Homo sapiens: one gene and its partners. The protein of the gene in region 3 purifies or fractionates together with the protein of the main gene of each other region. This does not show direct contact. Each region holds a gene or a part of one and is shown on either strand. Other genes may lie near its edges. The genes, in order: DBNL, EGLN2, LPP, ALAD, AGFG1 and RDX.

The links.
Region 1: the proteins of LPP (region 3) and DBNL fractionate together in Homo sapiens (co-fractionation; one large-scale study listed by BioGRID). This does not show direct contact.
Region 2: the proteins of LPP (region 3) and EGLN2 purify together in Homo sapiens (affinity purification with western blotting, with the first as the bait; one study listed by BioGRID). This does not show direct contact.
Region 4: the proteins of LPP (region 3) and ALAD fractionate together in Homo sapiens (co-fractionation; one large-scale study listed by BioGRID). This does not show direct contact.
Region 5: the proteins of LPP (region 3) and AGFG1 fractionate together in Homo sapiens (co-fractionation; one large-scale study listed by BioGRID). This does not show direct contact.
Region 6: the proteins of LPP (region 3) and RDX fractionate together in Homo sapiens (co-fractionation; one large-scale study listed by BioGRID). This does not show direct contact.

What each region holds. Positions count from the first base shown.
Region 1 is NC_000007.14:44,047,702-44,051,201, forward strand, and holds part of DBNL (drebrin-like protein), read left to right. Parts: intron 1-2,523; coding exon 2,524-2,579; intron 2,580-3,500. UniProt on the Homo sapiens protein: Adapter protein that binds F-actin and DNM1, and thereby plays a role in receptor-mediated endocytosis.
Region 2 is NC_000019.10:40,802,191-40,805,562, reverse strand, and holds part of EGLN2 (prolyl hydroxylase EGLN2), read right to left. Parts: intron 1-3,372. UniProt on the Homo sapiens protein: Prolyl hydroxylase that mediates hydroxylation of proline residues in target proteins, such as ATF4, IKBKB, CEP192 and HIF1A. Target proteins are preferentially recognized via a LXXLAP motif.
Region 3 is NC_000003.12:188,608,657-188,612,156, forward strand, and holds part of LPP (lipoma-preferred partner), read left to right. Parts: intron 1-504; coding exon 505-1,188; coding exon of another isoform or gene 1,189-1,209; exon of another isoform or gene 1,210-3,500. UniProt on the Homo sapiens protein: May play a structural role at sites of cell adhesion in maintaining cell shape and motility. In addition to these structural functions, it may also be implicated in signaling events and activation of gene transcription.
Region 4 is NC_000009.12:113,398,485-113,402,716, reverse strand, and holds the start of ALAD (delta-aminolevulinic acid dehydratase), read left to right. Parts: upstream 1-1,432; 5' UTR 1,433-1,505; exon of another isoform or gene 1,506-4,232.
Region 5 is NC_000002.12:227,478,656-227,482,155, forward strand, and holds part of AGFG1 (arf-GAP domain and FG repeat-containing protein 1), read left to right. Parts: intron 1-3,500. UniProt on the Homo sapiens protein: Required for vesicle docking or fusion during acrosome biogenesis. May play a role in RNA trafficking or localization.
Region 6 is NC_000011.10:110,234,115-110,237,614, reverse strand, and holds part of RDX (radixin), read left to right. Parts: coding exon 1-123; intron 124-1,423; coding exon 1,424-1,516; intron 1,517-3,500. UniProt on the Homo sapiens protein: Probably plays a crucial role in the binding of the barbed end of actin filaments to the plasma membrane.

The DNA of each region.
Region 1 (3,500 bases), on a different chromosome or scaffold from region 3:
TATGCCTTGCTGTTCAGAGGCCAGTGCACCATGTTTTTTCATGTTGATTTGAAACTTCCTTCGCCCTTCTTTCAAAAGGCCTCTGAACTGGGAATGAGCCTCTGCGCTGGGAACATTCTTAAAGGTGGCCTGGGGTAGAGAGGGATCAAGTCAGAGGGATAGGTGGCAGGCATTGAGCTTGGCTCTTATTATATTAGCTGCTGAGTCCCTTTTTTTTTTTTTTTTTTTTTTTGAGACAAGAGTCTTGCTCTGTCGCCCAGGCTGGAGTGAAGTGGCACGATCTTGGCTCACTGCAACCTCTGCCTCCCAGGTTCAAGTGATTTTCCTGCCTCAGCGTCCCAAGTAGCTGGGATTACAGGCACCCACCACCACACCCAGCTAATTTTGTATTTTTAGTAGAGACGGGGTTTCCCATGTTGGCCAGGCTGGTCTCAAACTCCTAACCTCAGGTGATCCACCCGCCTTGGCCTCCCAAAGTGCTGGGATTACCGGCATGAGCCATCGCAGCTGGTTGAGTCCCTTCTTGCAAGAGCTGGGTTGAGCTGCCATCTTCTGTTACCTGCTGCTTGTGCCAGCTTGCTATCTTCTGGGAGCCAGGGCTTTGTGGCCATCAAGAGGAATGGGCTTCTTTCCTCCAGGGAGTTCCCCCCAGCTCATGCTGGCAGTGTGCCACCTCCCAAATCTTTCTCTTGTTTTTCTGTGTTCTTTTCTCTAGTTCCTTTTCTCTGAGTGTTTCTCATTCAGTGTTTCTCTCCTGTATTCTGTCTCCCCTCCTGGTAAGGAGTGCCTTTTCCCGGAGGCCTGTCTCCTCCCTACCAACCAGATCCACTGGGCCTGGGTCTAATTTCTTCCATTTTTCTGAGGCATAAGTATCTCTGCCCAGTGGCACTGGCAAAGCCCTGGGGAAGCCAAGTTGAAGCTGATTTGGTTCCTGTCCGACTGTTTATCCCTGGAGCTTCTGTCTGGCCTGCCTCAGCAGGCCTGTGCTTTAGAGCCTGGGGAGATGACACACACTGGACTGGGTTTTGCCTTTGACTTATAGTCCAGTGGGTCAGTGCCTCCAGCCCATGTCCAGCAGCCCTGCTGGGGATGTTCAGTTGCTGCAAGGTTCATGCTATTAGCAAGCCAGAATGAATCTTTACCAGAGTTTTGTTTTTGTTTTTGTTTTTAAGAGTTGGGGTTTCACTCTGTTGTTTGGGCTGGAGTACAATGGCATCATCATGGCTCACTGTAGCCTCGACCTCCCAGGCTTAAGCAATCCTCCCACCTCAGCCTCCCGAGTAGTTGGGACTACGGGCATATGCCACCACGCCTGGCTGATTTTTGTATTTTTGGTAGAGACAGGGTCCCACCATGTTGCCCAGGCTGGTCTCAAACTCCTGGGCTCAAGCGACCCTCCTGCCTCAGCCTCCCAAAGTCCTGGGATTACAGACACGAGCCACCCACCTGGCCCAGAGTTCTGTTCTTTTTTTTGAGATGGAGTCTCACTCTGTTGCCCAGGCTGGAGTGCAGTGGCGCGATCTTGGCTCACTGCAAGCCCCGCCTCCCGGGTTCATGCCATTCTCCTGCCTCAACCTCCTGAGTAGCTGGGACTACAGGTGCCTGCTGCCACGCCCAGCTGATTTTTTGTATTTTTAGTAGAGATGGGATTTCACCGTGTTAGCCAGAATGGTCTCGATCTCCTGACCTCGTGATCCACATCTGCCCGCCTCGGCCTCCCAGAGTGCTGGGATTACAGGCGTGAGCCACTGCGCCCAGCCCAAAGTTCTTATGAATAATTAATCTTTCAGGAAAAGAAAGCCATGGCCCCATGTCACCCATGGAGAGATAAGGCTCTGCTAGATAGAAAACTTGCTCATGGGTACCTGTCCGTGAGGGGCTTGGCAGGTTCATGGCTTTAACTGTGTGATTTCATGTCGTGTCATTCCTTTGTGGTTTCTGATAAACACAACCTGTGGTAGTCTGTGTTTACCAAAGAGTCTCAAGCCTGGAAGGACCTGCTGCCCTACCCACCAGGCTTCACTGGAGCCAGGGCAGACGTGCACAGGAGTGGTGGGCAGCCTTCCAAGGGGCCCAGTGTGTGTATTTCTCCGACTTGCTTCTCCTTTTGGGTGCTCTGGGTTCAGGAATATGTAGATATGTTTTGTCTCTTCAAATCCATATACCTAGTGGCCAGGTGAGTATTTGACACATGAATGTATAGCAGTCATTGGGAAACTCCACAGCTCATGTTTTCCTCATAGTAGATGTGTGCTCCCATCTCCATGGCTTTGTCCCTCACAACCCCCACCCCATGGTAAGTCAGGCCAGTGTCCTCCCAGCTGCAGAGCTGAGAAGGCTGCACAGTTGCCTACTGAGAACCTGCCTAGTGGGTCAGAGCAAAGTGAGAACGGGCCTGTGCCCACCCACAGTGTTACTGTCAGCCCAAGCTCTTTGGGATGTAGTGGAAAGTCATGGTGGATACGGTGAGGAGAGATGGAACCCAAGGTGCTGGCTACAGAGCTCACTTGTGTTTCGTTTCAGGGCTCTCTTTACCTATGAAGGCAACAGCAATGACATCCGCGTGGCTGGCACAGGGGGTGAGTATGACTCCAAATGGACTCAGGGACACCAGGAGGTAGGAGGGTGACGACGAGGGGTCAGCGCACTCAGCTGTCTTGGTCCACTGAGCCACATGGGGCTTCCAGTGCTCACTGGCCACTTCTGGCAGGCCTTAGGTTTCAGATATGTGTAAGTGAAAACATTCCTCCTTGGTTCTCCTTCCCTCTGGGTGCAGGGGAGTGCTTTCTCTTTGTCTACTTGGGGAGAGCTGAGAGGGAAACAGGCCTCTCCAGCTTGTGGGCAGCCTGCGTTGGGAGCTGCGGTGGGAAGCTCACCAGTCCCAGAACTGGTGCTGGTGGAAAGAAAGTCCACAGACATATCTTCTTCTCCCTTTGTCCTGCCCTGGTCTTGTGCCGAGTGCTTGCAGGGGCCCCATCCTCACTGGGAGAGGCAGTATCACTGCAGATAGTCACGGGGGAGGCTCTGGAGGTCTCTACAGGAAGGACAGGCTCTTGGCCAGCACAGAGCAGAGGTTGTCAGGGTAGGCTTCGTCAGAGTGTGACCTGTGGGCCCCTCAGCTGACACCCGTGACTGCTCCTCCTCCAGAAGTTGCCTGACCCCTCCCTCTGTCCTGAGCTGGACATGGCTTCATTGTTCAATGAACACTCGGAGTGGTTCTCCACGGTTTGATGTCTGTTGTTGGTAGAAAGCCCCTTCCTTTCACAATCTTTCTGGGAGGTGTCCCCTTTCTAGAAGGATTGCCATTGAACAGTAGACATGTGGTGTGGCAGGTGACTGGGAGTTGCAGAGATCAACAACTTGAGAGTTTCCTGTCATCCCCAGTGGCACAGGACAGGGCTCTGCCACAAATGCAACAATTTGCTGTCCCCAGAGTGGGGCTCATGACTGCCTCCACTCATACGGAGCCCTGTAGATGAAATACCTGATCAGCTCTTCCT
Region 2 (3,372 bases), on a different chromosome or scaffold from region 3:
TCAGTGCTGCCACATGAGCTGTGGCATCAGGCAGGTGACTTCCTGGTCTCAGGTTCCTCATCCATGGATCCAATGGAGCTCACAGCTATTTCACAGGTTGTTGTGGAACAAGTGAACAAGATAACAAGTGTCTGGGAAGACAGCCAGCACAGTGCCTGCCACATGGAGAACTGGAGCACAGGCTGAAATGCCATTTAAAAATTTTAAAAGGTCCCTGTCCCACCCTCTGCCCAAAGTCACTGCAGTGGCAAGATGAGGTAGCACACAAAAAGGGGAGGACTGGCACAAGGACCCTTCAACTTCTCCCCAGCCCGGACCATCTGTCTTGACCTCTCTGCCCTGACCTCTCTGCCCTGGTACAACTCTGCTGGCGTCCATTCCCCACGAATGCTCAGCTACACCTATGGGCCCGGCCCAGCAAGACAGTCCCAAGATAAACATTCACGATCAAACATCAGTGGCCACTGCCACAACAGGATGCTTGCCAAGCACGCACGCCACAGCAGACTGGGCTGCTTCAATCCTCACCCTCCCCAGGACGCCTCCCAACACATTATCCCAGGGCTCACCCTCTGTGGTGGATGTTAAGCTGCTCTGCATTAACCATGTGCACCTCATCCACCAGACCTTGCCCTGGAAAGAGAGGGCTGCCACCATCTACTGCCACCTAGCAGTGGGAAGCTGACAACCTTCTCTCTGGCAGCACCAGAGTACAATTAGTGAGAAGGCCCCCCAGGGAAAACCCTAATGGCTACACTTCAAGGTTCAGGAGGGGGCACCTTCTTTGCACTGCTCACTCCCTATGGAAGGGTCGGCACTCTGAGCAACCACCTCACTGGGAGAAGAATTGGGCCATGGTCCAGGAGGCTTAGAAACAGTGAGTTACTGACTAGAGATGGGCAAGACCTCCCCAATTAGGAATCCAATCAGAGATTACACTGATGATGCACGTGGATGGGTGGCAGGGAAGGGGTCCAGTGCTGCACCCTCTTCCCACAATTCATCCCCACACAGCAGCCAGAGCCCCTCCTCTCCAGGTCTTCACTCCATCCTGAGAAAATACAAATTCCCAACCACAGCCTCAAAGGCCCCCAACCTCATGTGCCTCTCCCATCACTCTGCTCCATGCCTCAACAGGCTGAGCTCATCGCCACCACAAGGCCTCAGCACTGGCCTGGGACACTCTTCCTTCTGACCCTCTTTGTTATTCAGGATTCAGAGACCAAGGGTCACCTTGAGTACTCCGGCTGATTGTCCGTTCCACTCCTAGCAACATGGCATCAGCACAGGCACCTGTTTACCTAGTACTGCCCTGGAAGGCAGCCACAGGGAAGCCCCTGGGGCCAGGTTGGTCTCCCCAGTGCCCAGTGCAGTACCTGCAGACTGGAGTGCACTGCTCTGGGCCTCCTCTGCACCCCAGCCCTGCTATGTTTCCTCCTGCCCTGTACATTCTCACACAGCGCCTCCCACCAAGCACATGGGACTCACACAGAAACAGGAACCTGCTCTTTAGGGCCCCACCCTTCCCCCACATATACACACCTTGGGGGTGAAAGCATCCTCTGGCCCCAAGGAAAGTATCTACTTCCTGCCCTCACAGGGGAAGGCCTCAGGAAACTTGCTCTCCACCCCTCCCACCTAGGGGAGGGACAGGTGGGACCAGGGCCAGGAGACCAAAGACTTAAAGGCTATTGGTGACAATCTGCCTGCCAAGAGCCCCACCCCCACTACACACACACCCCAGTCAGAAGCCTGTGACTGTCCCACCTCCAAGCTGCTCTTCAAGGAGCAAACCAAGCAAGCTGGACTCTCCCTGGGGTCCCCTCTGGTAGCCCTTGCTGCCAGTGGGAGTCAACTCTCTCCCACCTACAGGTCAACGGAGCACCTGTCCCCAACCAGGGAGTTGGGGGAAGGAAGGATGACACAGGAGCTCCACTCAGAACGACTAAGAAGCACGTTTCTACTGGCTCTAGCCACACTGGTGATCCATGTCCCCACGGCAACTGCTGCAGCCCACCTGAGCACCCCACAGCCTTACTCTGGAGTACAGGAGAGAGTCCAGATGGGGCCCATCTAAAAGCGGGAAAGCCTGGAGTTGCTGTCTCACTGGGGAGGGGAGGGCTCCTCCCCTATGTTCTCAGTCCAGCCTGGCCTGTCCTTACTTCCCTAGGACAATCAAGGTCACCTAGGGCTAAAAAAGTCCAAACACGCCCCTTCCCCAATCCTCGCTGGGGCCCTGTCCCCAACCACATAGAAAGTGGGCACCAGAGGCACCAAAACACAAGAGATCTTCTCCTACTCTCCCCTCCCCAAACTGCCAGACTCACTGGGGATGTAACCTGGTTTTCGTATTCCGTGGATCAGCAAATTGAGGCTCAGAGCAGTGTCCCATCTGGGCCACTCAGCCCTTCTGGTCTCCCCCTGACGAGGACGACAGCCAACCTGGGGTGAAGATGCTGAGCCAGGGAGGCCACTGATCCCGCCCGCACAGGAGCCAAGCCCAGGGAGGGGCCGGCTCTGGCTCAGCTATCAAGTAACGGGAGGGAGAGGGAAGTAGAACAAGTTCCAGCTGGGGTGGGGAGGAAACAGGCCTTGGCCCCGGGGGAGCCCTGGTCCCTGAGCCAGCTCCAGCCTGAGAGGAAAGCCACACAGAAGCAGAACCCAAGATGGGATCTGCAGGAGGAGGCAGAGGACATCAGGAGCTCAGCCTCACGCCTGCAGGGCACAACACTGCCCGTGCCATCAGCCAGCCAGGCATCACTGTGTTGAGCAGTGGGCACTCCCCACAGGGCCTTGTCCAAAGGACACCAAGCCTTGGACTCAAGGCCAGGCCCCCACACCACCCATGAAGACAATGATCCTGTCAGCAGCCCGGAAAGGCCCTATGGACCACTGTCCTGTGCTGGGCTCCTGACCCCAGGTTCCTGAACAGGCAGCTGGAGGCCATGAGGCCTTGACAACTGCCCGGAAACTCCAAGCAAATGAGCATTTGTCTTAAGAGAGGATCTGTGGCCTCTGACAGATTCTCAAAAAGACCCAGGCTCCAAAATACCATTAAGAACTATTGTTCTAAAGCAAAAAGAAAAAGGGACTAAGAACAAACACATAAAGGCAGAGGAAGAGACAGACATGGGTAGGGAGGAAGTGACACACAGGACAGGGGGAATGGAGGGCAGGGACTGGGACAGTGAAGGGTGGGAGACATGGGGATGAGCTCCACCTGGGCCAACAGGCAGCCACCCAGTACCACCCCCAGGAGACTGTCCTCGATGCAGATGCCACAGTGGGGACCCAGGGCACAATGCAGTCCAGGGCCAAGCACTCGGCCCAGCGGGCAGCACCCCTTTCCTTCCCTCAGCCCAGGGCTCACTC
Region 3 (3,500 bases):
TTTGTGGTTCCATGTGAGTTTTAGAATTGTTTTTTCTATGTATGTAAAACTTCATTTTGGTATTTAGATAGGGATCTCACTGCATCTATAGATAACTTTGGGTAGGATATACATTCTAACAATATCAAGTCTTTCAACCTATGAACACAGATGTTTATCCGTTTGTTTGTGTCTTGTATAATTTCTTTCACCGATGTTTAATAGTTTTCAGTATATAATCTTTCTCCTCCTTAGATAACTTTTTTCCAAGTTTTTTATGCTACTGTAAGTAGAATTTTTTCCTTTCTTTCCTTTTCTGCTATTCGTCGGCAGTGCACAGATATACAACTGATTTTTGTGTTCATCTGTGAACACTTTGAAGGCAAGATTATGCCTTATTTGTGTTCTACATAGTAATAAATAATAATTAGCAGTTATTAATATTTTTCATTTATTCATTTTTATTGAGTTTCGTTGGCAGTAATTTTTGCTTTCTTTCTTTCTTTTTTTTCCTATTCTTTTTAGAGCTCCACTGGTTCAACAGCCTCTCCTCCAGTTTCGACCCCAGTCACAGGACACAAGAGAATGGTCATCCCGAACCAACCCCCTCTAACAGCAACCAAGAAGTCTACATTGAAACCACAGCCTGCACCCCAGGCTGGACCCATCCCTGTGGCTCCAATCGGAACACTCAAACCCCAGCCTCAGCCAGTCCCAGCCTCCTACACCACGGCCTCCACTTCTTCAAGGCCTACCTTTAATGTGCAGGTGAAGTCAGCCCAGCCCAGCCCTCATTATATGGCTGCCCCTTCATCAGGACAAATTTATGGCTCAGGGCCCCAGGGCTATAACACTCAGCCAGTTCCTGTCTCTGGGCAGTGTCCACCTCCTTCAACACGGGGAGGCATGGATTATGCCTACATTCCACCACCAGGACTTCAGCCGGAGCCTGGGTATGGGTATGCCCCCAACCAGGGACGCTATTATGAAGGCTACTATGCAGCAGGGCCAGGCTATGGGGGCAGAAATGACTCTGACCCTACCTATGGTCAACAAGGTCACCCAAATACCTGGAAACGGGAACCAGGGTACACTCCTCCTGGAGCAGGGAACCAGAACCCTCCTGGGATGTATCCAGTCACTGGTCCCAAGAAGACCTATATCACAGATCCTGTTTCAGCCCCCTGTGCGCCACCATTGCAGCCAAAGGTAAGAAACTCAGTAACATAAGGAGGAGAATACAGGGGTGCCTATCTTAGTCTGCCTTCCCCAGGAAGCGAAGCCTAAGGCAAAAGTGTGTGTGTTACTTTTATTTCACTGACAAATACAATCCCAGGGAAGGATGAGTGAAGCCAGAGAGGAGAGAGAGACTACTTAGTATGTTACTAATATGGCCACTGTTTAGTATCAAATGGAATTGCTTGCTCAATCTCAGAGAATCATCTTCCAAAGCCCACAGACACCATAGCATCTGAGGACAAAGTGTTCTGATGGAGAAAGAGAAAATAATTTATTTTTCACATCCTTCCCTATATTGGTTAAAGCTTCCCTCTGTTGTGCAGAAACTTCCTCTACACCTTGCATTTGCTTGGACATTAAACAGGTCTGTAGTATCTCAAGCCTCAGCAAGGGTAGTGATCTATGGGTGAGACATGTGGAGGGCAAAACTGAGTGAACTGCTGTCAGGCTGTGGCCCTGTGAAGGCGATTATAACTCCCGCAATGTTGGTACCACAGCGGTTGCTGGGCCAGAACAAGTGGCCAAGGACCCAGGAAATGGGTGAGGCCAAGCAGGTCTAAGATAATGCAAATGCCTTGGACAGTTTCTCCTTTGAGAAGGGGCTGCAGTATAATGCAGCTTGTTTGTGACCCCTTGTTTATTCATTTTACTAATCCTCCAGAAAGAATCTTATTCTTCAGCCTTTAGCACTATTAAGCAATGTTTAAAAACTCCTTATGAGTGACAGTTACTTCTTATTTGATTTAATTGTCCATATGTGGACCTTTTAAGTTAACACTCTCTGTTACTTCGTCTGAATAGGTAAGGTGTAATACTACACATGCCCACTCACCACAACTTGGATTTTTCATTAGTACTGGAACCAACACGATGTTGATTCCTCCCATTATGACTAGAGGAACCAATAAGAATAACTTGGAATCGGTGAAAATAGAGGAACTGAGCCAGTTTCCAGCCACTTGGGTTGGAAGAGTGCCCTTGCTTCTTTTCAGTTAGAACTGTGAGAAATCAGAAATTTGAGAGCCCTCAATTAGCTAGAAGTTCAATGGTAGTTTTGGGGGATGGATTGGGTAGAAGTTTGGACTGTATTTTTAAAAATTCTTTCCACATTTTTACAAGATTGTCCATTTCAAGACAGATCTATTCACATATTCAACATTGTATCAAAAATTTCCTTATAGGGTATTTACTAAACTGTTTTTCTTATATGAAAGCGTCTGCCATATTAATGGTGTCCTATGTGAATTTCACATTCTATAGGGGAATAGAGCTCTTCCTGACAGTGGGGACTGTGAAGAGCTGGAGAAATCCTATAGCCTTATGTGTGACCACTATATGAAATTGGCCAGCCATGATCCCTTTCCGATAGATAGATTCCAAATTAGAATTTTAAATGATTTTAAACATGACTCAGTTTCTTAAGTCTCTCTATGAAAAGAAATGTTATTACAGTTTTTTATTTCTTTTTAAAATGAATTTGTCCATAATAGCCAATCTGGACAGCCTTGCTCTTTGTTAATGTCGCAGTATATTTGCACCAGTGCCTCCTGGCCCAGTCAAGGGGAGTCTATTTTCAAAACAACCAGTTCAGAGAAACAGATTATTCAACTTAACCACAGTTTTTGTTTTCAACAATTGCAACAGATTTACCCAGGGAAGATTACAGTAAAATAAAATTTTAGGTCAGAACAACTGCTGTCAAGGTTTAAGTTCAACTAGACAGACAATTTAGCCCTGCCCAAAACAGGGTGACTGAAAGGATGGCTGAGTGATGTTCCTGAAGGAATGACATGGTGTCTGCCTTGTTGGAGGATTGTGTTATCCCACATAGGAACCAGACATGAGAGAAAGCAAAACTATGTGTCTTGATGAGACTCACCTGGTGAGAGGTACTGAGCTAGTCTTCAGATGTTGTTTTCTCACTAAGTCACTGGGCACTCTGGCCAGCCTCTCTTCAGCATTTGGAACCCATCCATTGGTGTAGGAAAAAGAATCAGCCCCCACTGCTAGAACTGGATCTAAAGTGCTGGGTCCAGCCACATCCCTAACATTTGGCCTGTCCTCACCAACTGACACAGGGAGATGGAATGAATTTTTATAAACCACTCATCAGAAAACATGGAACTTTATTTTACTTCTTATTTGAGCAAGGTGGTTATTCAAGATGATCTATTAGATGATTACAGATTTTGGATATCAGTAGATTTCATGTTATTTTTAAAATTTTTGATATATTTGTTTTTCAACAGTTTCATGTGTTTTCACATCATATTCGGCTGTGC
Region 4 (4,232 bases), on a different chromosome or scaffold from region 3:
ATTGTTTTCCCAATCCGTAAAGTGAGAATAGTAACATCGTTGCTGTCAAGATTAGATAAATGAATGTAAAATGCATGGTACTGTCCCTGACTCTTTAATGCACAGCAAACATTATTTGCTTTCTATCCCCTTCCTTGTTGAATACAGATCAGAACTCCAGTAGCTGGAAACTAAGCAGTGTCATATTTCCCTAGCCTTACGCCGCTAGGCCCCTTAAATTTAAAATATAAAGTATACAACAGGTTTGGGGTACAGATTTTGAGAAATTTAAAAAAAAATTTTTTTTTGAGACAGAGTCTCCCTCTGTCACCCAGGCTGGAATGCAGTGGCATGATCTCAGCCCATTACAACCTCCGCCTCCCGGGTTCAAGCGATTCTCCTGCCTCAGCCTCCCGAGTAGCTGGGATTACAGGAGCCCGCCACCACGCCCGGCTAATTTTTTGTATTTTTAGTAGAGACAGGGTTTCACCATGTTGGTCAGGCTGGTCTTGAACTCCTGACCTCAAGAGATCCGCCCGCCTTGGCCTCCCAAAGTGCTGGGATTACAGGCGTGAGCCACCGAACCGGGCTGAGAAATAAAATCTGAGAATAAGTGTAATGTAACCCACTAGTGTCCTCTACATTTGAAAGTCAACTTTTCAATAATCCCTGAAGAACCACCTGAAAGGCATTGCTTCGCTAGGGCGATGATGCCCGATCGCCATTTTACTCATCCAATCCTACTGGTTTACCCAGGCCCCATAAGCCTCACCAGATCCCTCTTGCCTCTGCACATCTCCAATCTCCATAAAGACCTTTGATCGGATCTATCATTGTACCTATCATAGGTCTGATGCCCCTATCAAGACTTGGAGTTTTCCTAAACGCCCATGTCTTTCACATCACATCTCTCAACTCATAGCATTGCCGTACCCTGAGAAATAAATGAAGCTGGTACAAATTTTCTCTGAAAACTTGGAAGCCTGGCGCTGAACTCAACAACTTTAGCTTAGTCCGCAAAAATGGACTTAGCTAATACTGTGTTAGGCATAATGGTGCTGTTTTAACGGCTTTGACATCCAATTATTCTTTCACCAAGCCATTAACCAGAGCCAAGTTTGCCCTAGGCTGGGCAAAGGAATGCTGTGAAGTGAAACCTGGGCTGTAACCGCCTCCGAGGCCGGCTCACACCCAGGGACCCTCCCAAGCGGTTCCTGCGCCCCCTCGTGGCCTCCCTCCTGCAGTTCGCTGCACAAGCGCAGGGCCCGGAGCGGGGACGGGCGGGCCCTCCAGGCCCTCGACACACCCAATTGGCCAGGCCTCGTTGCGTGTGGGCGGGGCCGCGGCTGGAGCGGAGGAGCCCCCCAGAAGACCGCCTTCAGGGGGCGTGGCCTGGACTGTGGAGGGGGCGGACCGTGGGGAAGCTGCTTCCGGGTGAGCCCCCCCCGCTCTTACGCGGTCTGTGGGAGACCGGAGCGGGAGACAGCGGTGACAGGAGCAGCGGCCGGGAGCCCTTAGGGAGGCAGGTGAGCGGGGGCTGGATGCGGGGAGATAGCGGGCCTGGAGGGCGGCTCCAGGGCGAGGCGGGGACTGTGGCACCAAGAGTCCTGCGTCCCCAGATTGTGCTGTGCGCCTGAAGCCCTGGCGGTGCAGCCGTGCACGGAGTCCCGTGGAGCGTTTGTTTGGGCTGGATTATCCCGCTGCAGCCGAGGTTGGGGGCCCGGGTTCGGGGCTCCGCACCTCTTCTCTGGGGTTCACCCTCTCGGATACCGCCTGGGCAGACTCCATCGATGCAGAACCCGAGGTGCGGGTGGTGGTTGGTGGGGGGGTAGGGAGGTGAAAACAATAACAGCCGTTTTGTACTAAGCGTTGCGTGCATTGACCATTCATTTATTTTATTTATTTATTTATTTTTGAGACGGAGTTTCGCTCTTGTTGCCCAGGCTGGAGTGCAATGGCGCGATCTCAGCTCACTGCAACCTCCGCCTCCCGGGTTCAAGCGATTCTCCTGCCTCAGCCTGCCAACTAGCTGGGATTACAGGCGTGTGCCACCACGCCTGCTAATTTTTGTATTTTTAGTAGAGATGGGGTTTCTCCCTGTTGGTCAGGCTAGTCTCGAACTCCCGAGCTCAGGTGATTCGCCCACCTCGGCCTCCCAAAGTGCTGGGATTACAGGCGTGAGCCACCACGCCCGGCCTGACCCATTCATTTCTTACAACAACCCATTGAGGTCGGTTCTAGTCCCCATTTACTAAACGAAGAAACTGAGGTCACACAACTAGAAAGCTACAGAACTAGGATTTGTACCCACATCTATCAGACTCCAGAGCCCACATACTTAACCATCCTGCTACCAACAGCAGCCAGGCCCAGAGTCTGGCTCACCCAAAGCTCTCCACAAGCCCAACCTGCTGGGAAACAGATTTGATATCTATCCTTAAAGTATGGAGGTGTCATGGTGGGCACTGAGGACTGGGCTGCTGGAGACCTTCCCCCAGATCTGCCGCTGACCCACTGCGTGATCCTGGGCCTGTGTCTACCCCTCTCTGAGCCCAGTTTCACCCTTGTTTCAGTGATACAATCAGCAAACTTTAAGAAGACTCTTAGCCAAGATATTCTAGGATTCTGGGAATGGCAGCTTCTCCTACGTCTAAATGGCTAACCCCAGAGGCGATCAGGCTCTTCAAAGCCCCAGGGCAAGGCTGGGGTCTCATTCTTCTCTTTAATCCCTGTGTCTAGCACTTCAGCAGGCCCATAGTAGATATTCAAGAAATGTGGGTTGGCTGAATAAACACTTCATCTCTTTTCAGAACTGCATGACAGCTGCTCTCCTGGGCCTTTGTGGGGCTTTGGATTTCTCAGTTCTGGCCACCTTCTATCTAGCTGGCTCTCCTGACTGCCTCCTCCCTGGCCAGTGGCAGAGCCTGCCAGGGCTGGCAGCAGGTCCTAAGCCTCTGTGCGAAGACCCACAGCCTCTGGAATCCTCAGCATAGTACAACTTGCAGGGGTGGGGGGTGGCACATGAAGCTCATAGCCCCTCCTGGTAGCAGTGCTCAGGGCCCAACTTCAGTTACTCCCAGTTTGGGGATGTTGCCTTCCATGGGAGGAGATACTTTCATATTAAATCTGAAACACTTCTTATCCTTCACTGTCCCCTCTTCCATGAAACCACCCTTGACTCAGAGACACAGTCCCTCTGACAGCACCTGGTCCACCCCTCTACTCTGGCAGCCCGGTGGTGATTATTTTGTTTTTCCTCCACCACATAACCTGCTGGAAGGCAGGGACTCCACTTCAGAAATCTTGGAAAACCCTGTGGCCCACAAGGGTTTGAGCTCATATTCCCATCTGGTGAGGTGCAGAAGGCACAGAGCTGTGCCAGGACATCTCGTTCCAACCCAGCCCCACTCCTAATAGTAATAAAAGTAGCTACATGTTTACTGTGCAGCTACTTGGTGCCAGACACCTACCTTATCCCTATCAATAATCTCCACAGCCTTGCAAGTTAGAGATATCATGCCTATTTTGTAGATTATGAAATGAACACTGAAAGGTCAATTACTTTGCCCAAAATTACACAGCAGAGCATAGACCAAACCTGGGACTGTCTGACCCTGAAACATGGATCTTTCTGCACCGCCCTATACTCTGCGTCCCAGCAAAGCTAACCTGTCTGATGTGGTTGGGCAGAGGTGCTGGACCTCCTGGCGGCTCGCTCCTGTCTTCAGTGTGGTAATGTCACAGGCATTTAAATTGTGGTTTGCAAGCTCGCTTGATTTGGGAGAAGTGCCCTCCCAGTCTGTGAAATTCTCCCAAACTCTAAGGGCCTTTTTGCAAAGCAAAACCCACCCTGCATTTGGCTCTGCCAATATGTGATTCAGGGGGTGTTTTCCCACTCACAGAATGGAGTGGGAAACTCCACTTATTAAGTACCTCTTACAATGGAATGACTCTATGGTGTAGGTATCAGGGCACTGAAATAGAAGCCAGGAGCTGCAGGGTCAGTTTATAGCTCTGTATGTCACTCACTGTGATCTCCAAAAGTCCCGTTGCCTCTTTATACCCCATTTTCCACATTAAAGTGTAAGGGATTAAACAGGATTGGCAATTTTCAAGCTTTTAATATTTTCAGCACTGACAGCCGTTTCTCAAATCAAATCTGTCTCTGAATCTTAAAATTCAAAAACAGATCAAAGTGGACTGCTGTAGTGAGACTGTTCCCTTTACTCTAACCCTGCCCCGGTCTCAGGCTC
Region 5 (3,500 bases), on a different chromosome or scaffold from region 3:
TAACATACAACTGTTAATTTGCTGGCACATAAGGCTTTGAATATGGGTCCACTGATTAGATTCTTTGTCCCCTAATATAACCCAGACTCATGCTGTACTATTTATGATTTTTAGCATTTTAATGTACTTATAAAACAGTTTGAATGCTGAATTCTTCTAGATTTTTATGATTTTTCTCTCAGTCTTTTACAGTTCTTTTCCATGGTCAAATAACAGCTTATCCTAGTGACTTGTTTTAGTCTCTAAAAATACTTAGTTTACATGGAAATAATTCTTCTCACTCATGCCATTGTTTTACATGACATTCACTTAAACTATATACTTACCAAGTACTGTACCAACTATATTACCAAATACTATACCAGACAAATTTTGATAAGCATAAAACTCACTCTCTCCTGAGAGAGGAGCAGGAGAAAGTGGCCTTCTAGCCATGAATGTTCATTGTGCAGTAGGCATTAACTTTAGGTTTCTCAGAGGGAAGGAGAAACATAGATTTAACCAGCAAATTGGATAAGAAGGACTCTTCTGTATAGTGCTGTGGGTACCTTTTATACTGGGAAAACTCCAGCATTCAGGTTGTGGTGACATCATTTGACCATAACTGAGTATAAAGGCATTATTGCCATGTTAAGCCTTTTTCTGTTCCCTATTCATTCATCCATCATTTTTGGCATGTGATTTTTAAACACTGGCTTTTAGTTTCAAAGTGGATAAAATACAGTTTAGATTAAATTTACATTAAATTTTATAATATTAGTGCATTATAAATGAAAAGAATTAAGACATTGTTTTAAAAGAACTTGCCGACCTCTGGATCTCAATTTGAAAATCATTGTCTTTTTAGAAACCTCTGTATCTGTTCCAATAGCATTCTTTGGAAAACAGGCAAATCTCCTTATTTGATATTTTCCTTCTTTTCTGTGCAGCGTGCATGATGTTCACATTTGTGAGAAACTCCTATGGAAATATTCGGGACTAGGTTTTACTACTCCCCCTCATTTTTTCCCCCACTTGAATGTGTTTTCTAATTCAAATCAAAGTGATGATTGTCTAGGGAAATACAACTTGGATACCTTTAATGTATGTAAAAACGTTTTAAAATCAGTTATAACTTTGAGTACTTACATTAATAGCATGTTCCTTGTGACATTTTTTACAACCTTACACACGAGAACTATTGCTAAAGACACCTGATTGAACATTAGAATGAAATTCATGAGCTATTCAGTGGGGACAGGAAACTTATTTGAGTTGTTTGAAATACAGAGAATTAATTTTTGTTTGTGTTAGAACATACTTTGCTCAAAGACTTCTGACTAAGATAGCAATCTTTTTGATTGACACCATACATGTTTTGTAGAGGTCATAATTATACCTTACTTTTATTCTGGTTGCTTGTTTTAAGAGGAATGTTAACAAACTGGAGCATGCTCCAAGGAATCTGATCAAGATGGTAAGGAAGTTTGAAACTATGTATTAGAGGAACATTTGCAGGAACCAAAAATGCTACTAGCTTAAAGAAGAAAAGATTAGACAGTGGGGGAGCTGTACACATGATCACTGTCATTGGGTAATTTAAGGCATTGGGAGAGGTAATACATTTATTTTTACGACTCTAGGGGGAGATGCAACACCAGTGTTTGTAAGTTATGGAGAAACAGTGTATGTTCAGAAAAGGAAAGAGGAATTTTCCTTGTAATTGTCAGATTCCAAAAATTCTTGTCTTTCCATATTTCTTATTTTATTTTATTTTATTTTTGAGATGGAGTCTCACTCCATCTCCCAGGCTGGAGTGCAGTGGCGCCAACTCAGCTCACTACAACTTTCATCTGTCAGGTTCAGGTGATTCTCCTGCCTCAGCCTCCCTGGTAGCTGGGATTACAGGCATGAGCTGCAATGAACTTCCTTCAATATGATCAGATGCATCAGCTACTTTTTTTTTTTTTTTAACTGTTTCTGGGTACTTTTATAATCTTCTGCTCTGGAAATGCTGCTGTCTAGGCCTGCTGTGCGGCTCTCATACCAGAACTTTTCTTCTATCTTCATTCTGGAAATTCCCTTCACTTGTAACCTATGTTAGATGCTCTGTTTCCAGGACCCCCAACATTTCCGTTAGCCTCCTGATGAAAGGTGAATGAGAGGTCATTTTTGAAAGCCACAAAGCTGAAAATGTTTTATTCTGCCTTCTTTTTAAAAATTAGTTTGCCTACATTCACAAAGGTGAAAATACTTTACCCTTGGAACTTTCAATATATTGCTTAGTTGTCTTCAAACCTTCAGTGTTGCTGTTGAGAAGTCTGATGCTATTCTTATTACTGAGTCTTTCTGACCCACTTCTTTTCTTCCCTCTTTTGGAGTATGTAAGATCTTCTTTTCTTCCTGCTGTTCAGAACCTCATATTGAAGTATTTTGGTGTAGGTCTTTTGTTCAGTGTTTTAGGCTTTTTTTTTTTTTTTTTTTTTTTTGAATTTGTTTGGAAACTCACGCTTTTTATAGTGCAGACATATTTTCTCCAATCTTCTTTTTTGGGGAATATAAAAGCCTGTGATGCCACTGTTCTGGGAACCAAGTTGAGGGAGGTGACTGTCATTCTGTGTGTTTGATCTTAGATAATCCTCCAGCTTTCCACATGGTCCCTAACAAGAGTCTTCAGCAGTGTCTTGAGTTTGAAGTCTCTGTGGTATAACCTCTTTAAAACTTTCCTTCAGACTTCCCACCTAGGGCTGGTGGGAGTATGCTTTTGGCTGTTAAGGAACTGGAGAGTCTAATGATTTCTGACCCCACTTTAAGCCCTCACCTGTATCCAGTTCCTTCAGTAAATCTTGATATGTCCTGTGGTGGGAATCAGTTTCCAGTTGGCTTCTCCCACCTTTGCAGAAGCTTCTGTTTTGGCTTTCTCCATAAAGTCACTTACTGCTGGTATTTTGTTTTTAAATCTTCCAAATTTTGTTATTCAAGAACTGTCGTGTGCTTTTGGACTCTTCTCTTGTTCTCTGACGCTCTGTTTATTTTAATTTTTGTGGGCACATAGTAGGTGTATGTATTTATGAGGTACACAAGATAGGAGTTTTGATACAGGCATGCAGTATGAGATAAACACATCATGGTAACCCTCTGTCTCTTGTGGGTTAATACCTTCTTATTCCTTTACTGTCATTTCGTTGTGGGTTTGGGCATGTGAAGAGATTTAGATTTTGTCCACTACTTTTTTTTTTTTTTTTTTTTTTGAGACAGAGTCTCGCTGTTGCCCAGGTTGGAGTGCAGGGGCGCGATCTCTGCTCACTGCAAGCTCTGCCTCCCGGGTTCACGCCATTTTCCTGCCTCAGCCTCCCACGTAGCTGGGACTACAGGCGCCCGCCACCTTGCCCCGCTAATTTTTTGTATTTTTAGTAAAGACGGGGTTTCACCATGTCAGCCAGGATGGTCTCGATCTCCTGACCTCGTGATCTGCCCGCTTCGGCCTCCCAAAGTGCTGAGATTACAGGCGTGAGCCACCG
Region 6 (3,500 bases), on a different chromosome or scaffold from region 3:
CAAGAACGAAAACGAGCAAAAGAAGAAGCAGAACGACTTGAAAAGGAGCGTCGAGCTGCTGAAGAGGCAAAGTCTGCCATAGCAAAACAAGCTGCCGACCAGATGAAGAATCAGGAGCAGCTAGTAAGGAACTGTCTTCTTAGAGAAAAAAGTTTAAATAAAAGCATAGAGTGAACCCTCTAAAAAAGAAAAAAAGAAAAGCAACCATTTTGTGCTTTCTGGAGAGCAAGCCAAAGATAACATGTAACTTAATAACAAAATGTAGACAAAAACCTAGAAAATTTATTTCTGCCTAAACAAAAACCTAAAAATACAAAAGAATAAGGCATTTTTCTATAGATTATTTGTAAATGGAGTCTACTGTCAGCAAAAGGTTCTGATTCACTTTGACATTGGACAGGTTCGGTAATAAGTCAGTTGGCGTCTTTTGCTTTAGATAAATTAATATGTTATAGTTATATAATATAGATATATGTTATAGTTATATAATATATTATAGATATATAATATGTTATAGTTCCTATGAGGCCATAATTGGTTGGGTTTTTTTATTTAGTGGACTTGCAAATAATTAGATGTAAGCGTGTCACTTAAAAGATCCTGGATTTAAATATTAGTTCACACATGTACTTGCTATGTATGTGTCTTTGGGTCTTTCTGAGCCTCAGTTCCCTCCCTTTGAAAAGAGGAATGATGGCCGGGCACAGTGGCTCACGCCTGTAATCCCAGCATTTTGGGAGGCCGAGGCAGGTGGATCACCTGAGGTCAGGAGTTCAAGACCACCCTGACCAACATGGCGAAACCCTGTCTCTACTAAAAATACAAAATTAGCCAGGCACAGTGGTGCACGCCTGTAATCCCAGCTACTCGGGAGGCTGAAGCAGGAGTATTGCTTGAACCTGGCAGGCGGAGGTTGCGGTGAGCTGAGATTGTGCCACTGGGCTCCAGCCTGGGTGACAGAACGAGACTCTGTCTGAAAAAAAAAAAAGGAGGAATGATACTACCTGTTAATGATACTACCTGTTAGGATTATTGGGGTATTAAATGAGATGATTTGACAAAGTGCCATTTAAAGTATATAGCATTAGATAAATATTTTATCTTTTGTGGACTTTAACAAATAGTTTATTGATGGAAATTTTTTAAAAAAGCTTTTAAGTTACACATTTTAAGTTCCTGCTACTGAAAGCAGGATTAACTAGTCTGTAGAATAATAGTAATTTTTTAATTTTGTCTCCTTAGCTCATTACCTAAAGGACTTATTGTAAATAAGCTATTTAAGATCTTAAGAAATACTGTATTTTTTTAAATGGAAGGCTAAGAAAAACATAAACAGCCTAAGCATGTGCATTAAAACTTTGTTGACTTATAAGATTATTCAAAATATGTTATTTTAATTTTGGAATTATATTGTTTACTTTAGGCAGCAGAACTTGCTGAATTCACTGCCAAGATTGCACTTCTAGAGGAAGCCAAGAAGAAAAAGGAAGAGGAAGCTACTGAGTGGCAACACAAAGTAATCATTTATTCATTTACTAGCTTTTATTGAATAGCTTTTATACCCAGGATTATGCTGACTTTGTAGTGATAAGTGTAAGATACTGTCATAATTTAGAGTGGGAAAGATACTCGTGTTATGTGTATTGTAAATATCTATCTACAGATATAAACCAAGTACTTTGGGAACACAGAAGAGGTGATTAATTTCTGGGGGACCAGAGAGTTGTCGGGAGACCCATATACATTTAAGCTGGGTCTTGAATAATGAATTAAATTTTGGGGGTACAAAAGATTGGGATGTAAAATTGGGAATAGTTAGAGACTGAAGAAGTAGTCATTCTAGACAGAGGGAACTGAATGAGTATAGGAAGTATGAATGTATATAATAGATTTGAGGATAACCAATAAGCAGCCGAGGCTTAGTGTTGTTCAGAAATGTTAGGAGATGTGGCCCTCAAGTTTGATAATAGGGAATTGTGAAAGGCTTTAAATAAATGCTCTGCTACAGCAAGGCAGTGGGAGTATCGATTGACTTGGGGCTTAGAAGATTTCAAAACAGGATTGTAACATGATCAGATATGATTTTATAAAAACCATGTAGTGATCAGTGTGAAGAAAGGATTGGGATAGTGGATACTTAAGAGATAAAGACCCAAACTGAGGATGTGAAAATGAGAATAAAGAGGAATGGGAAGATATAAGAGACATTTTGTGGTCACAAAAAGGCATGGGAACCAGTGATTGGATATGAAGTTGAATTATTTTTATTTTTTTAGAGACATGGTCTTACTCTGTGTCCCAGGCTGGAGTGCAGTGGCACAATCATAATTCATTGCAGCTTTGAACTCCTGGGCTCAAGGGATCCTCCCACCTCAGCCTCTGCAGTAGCCGAGACTACAGGCATGCACCATCATTTTTATTTTTGTTGAGAATGGAGGTCTTGCTGTGTAACCCAGGTTGGTCTTGAACTGCTGGCCTCAAGCAGCCCTCCCATCTCAGCCCCCAAAGTGCTGGGATTGTAGGTGTAAGCCACTGTGTGCAGCTGACACCGAGATTTCTAATATGAGTCCTAAGTAGATGAAACCACTGTTGTCTAAAGTAGCACACAATTGTAAAATCAGGCTTTGGTTGGAGAGTGGGGGAATATAAGATAATGAGAGTTTAATTCAAACAACATTAACTCTTAACTGAAAAGATAATTTTTTTACCCCCAAAGATGATATTTAGTTTTAGAAGATGATTTTTCTACAATAAAATGTACTTATACAGAAAACAGTTTTCTTGCACTCTTAAGTAAATCTTTGTAGCAGTTTAAATTTCATTGGGTAATTTTATATGTATTGAAAATTAGTTATATATAAATAAAACTACAAAAGGAATGCTACTGTTAATTTCCCAGTTACTCTACTTGTTTATTAGAATTTTTTAGATCCCTTTTAGGGATGATTTATGAAATTTAGAGACACATAAACTTTAAAAAATTAGCATATTACAGATATCAAGTCTGTGAATTATAGAAAATTAGAAAATGCACACAAAAGACAATTGTATTCCCATAAACTAGGGGAAATACTGCAAAACCTTAGTACATATTCTTCCAGGATACTTCCTGTTTATATATTCAACATGAAATCTTACTGTATGTACTATTTCATTTTAGTCAATTTTCATCTCAGAATATTAGACTATATTAAGAATTTCCCAAAAAGTCTCATAGCTAATTTGCCAGACAAGTGTTCAGAGGACTTTGCATTGTCTGTATTTGCTGTAAGTCTCTTTTAATGGAGGGCAGTTTCTCTTTTTATTATTTTGATTTATTGAAGGGACCTACAGAATGTCTCACCTCCTATATTTGTTTAGTTACTTCCTTGTGTCATTGACCTTATCCTTTAACTCCAGTATTTCCTTTGAACCAGAAGTTAGATCTAGAACCTGGGGAATTCAAATTAAATGTTTTGACTACAGTGCATCAAAGGTGAGACTTCCATATAATTGAACAT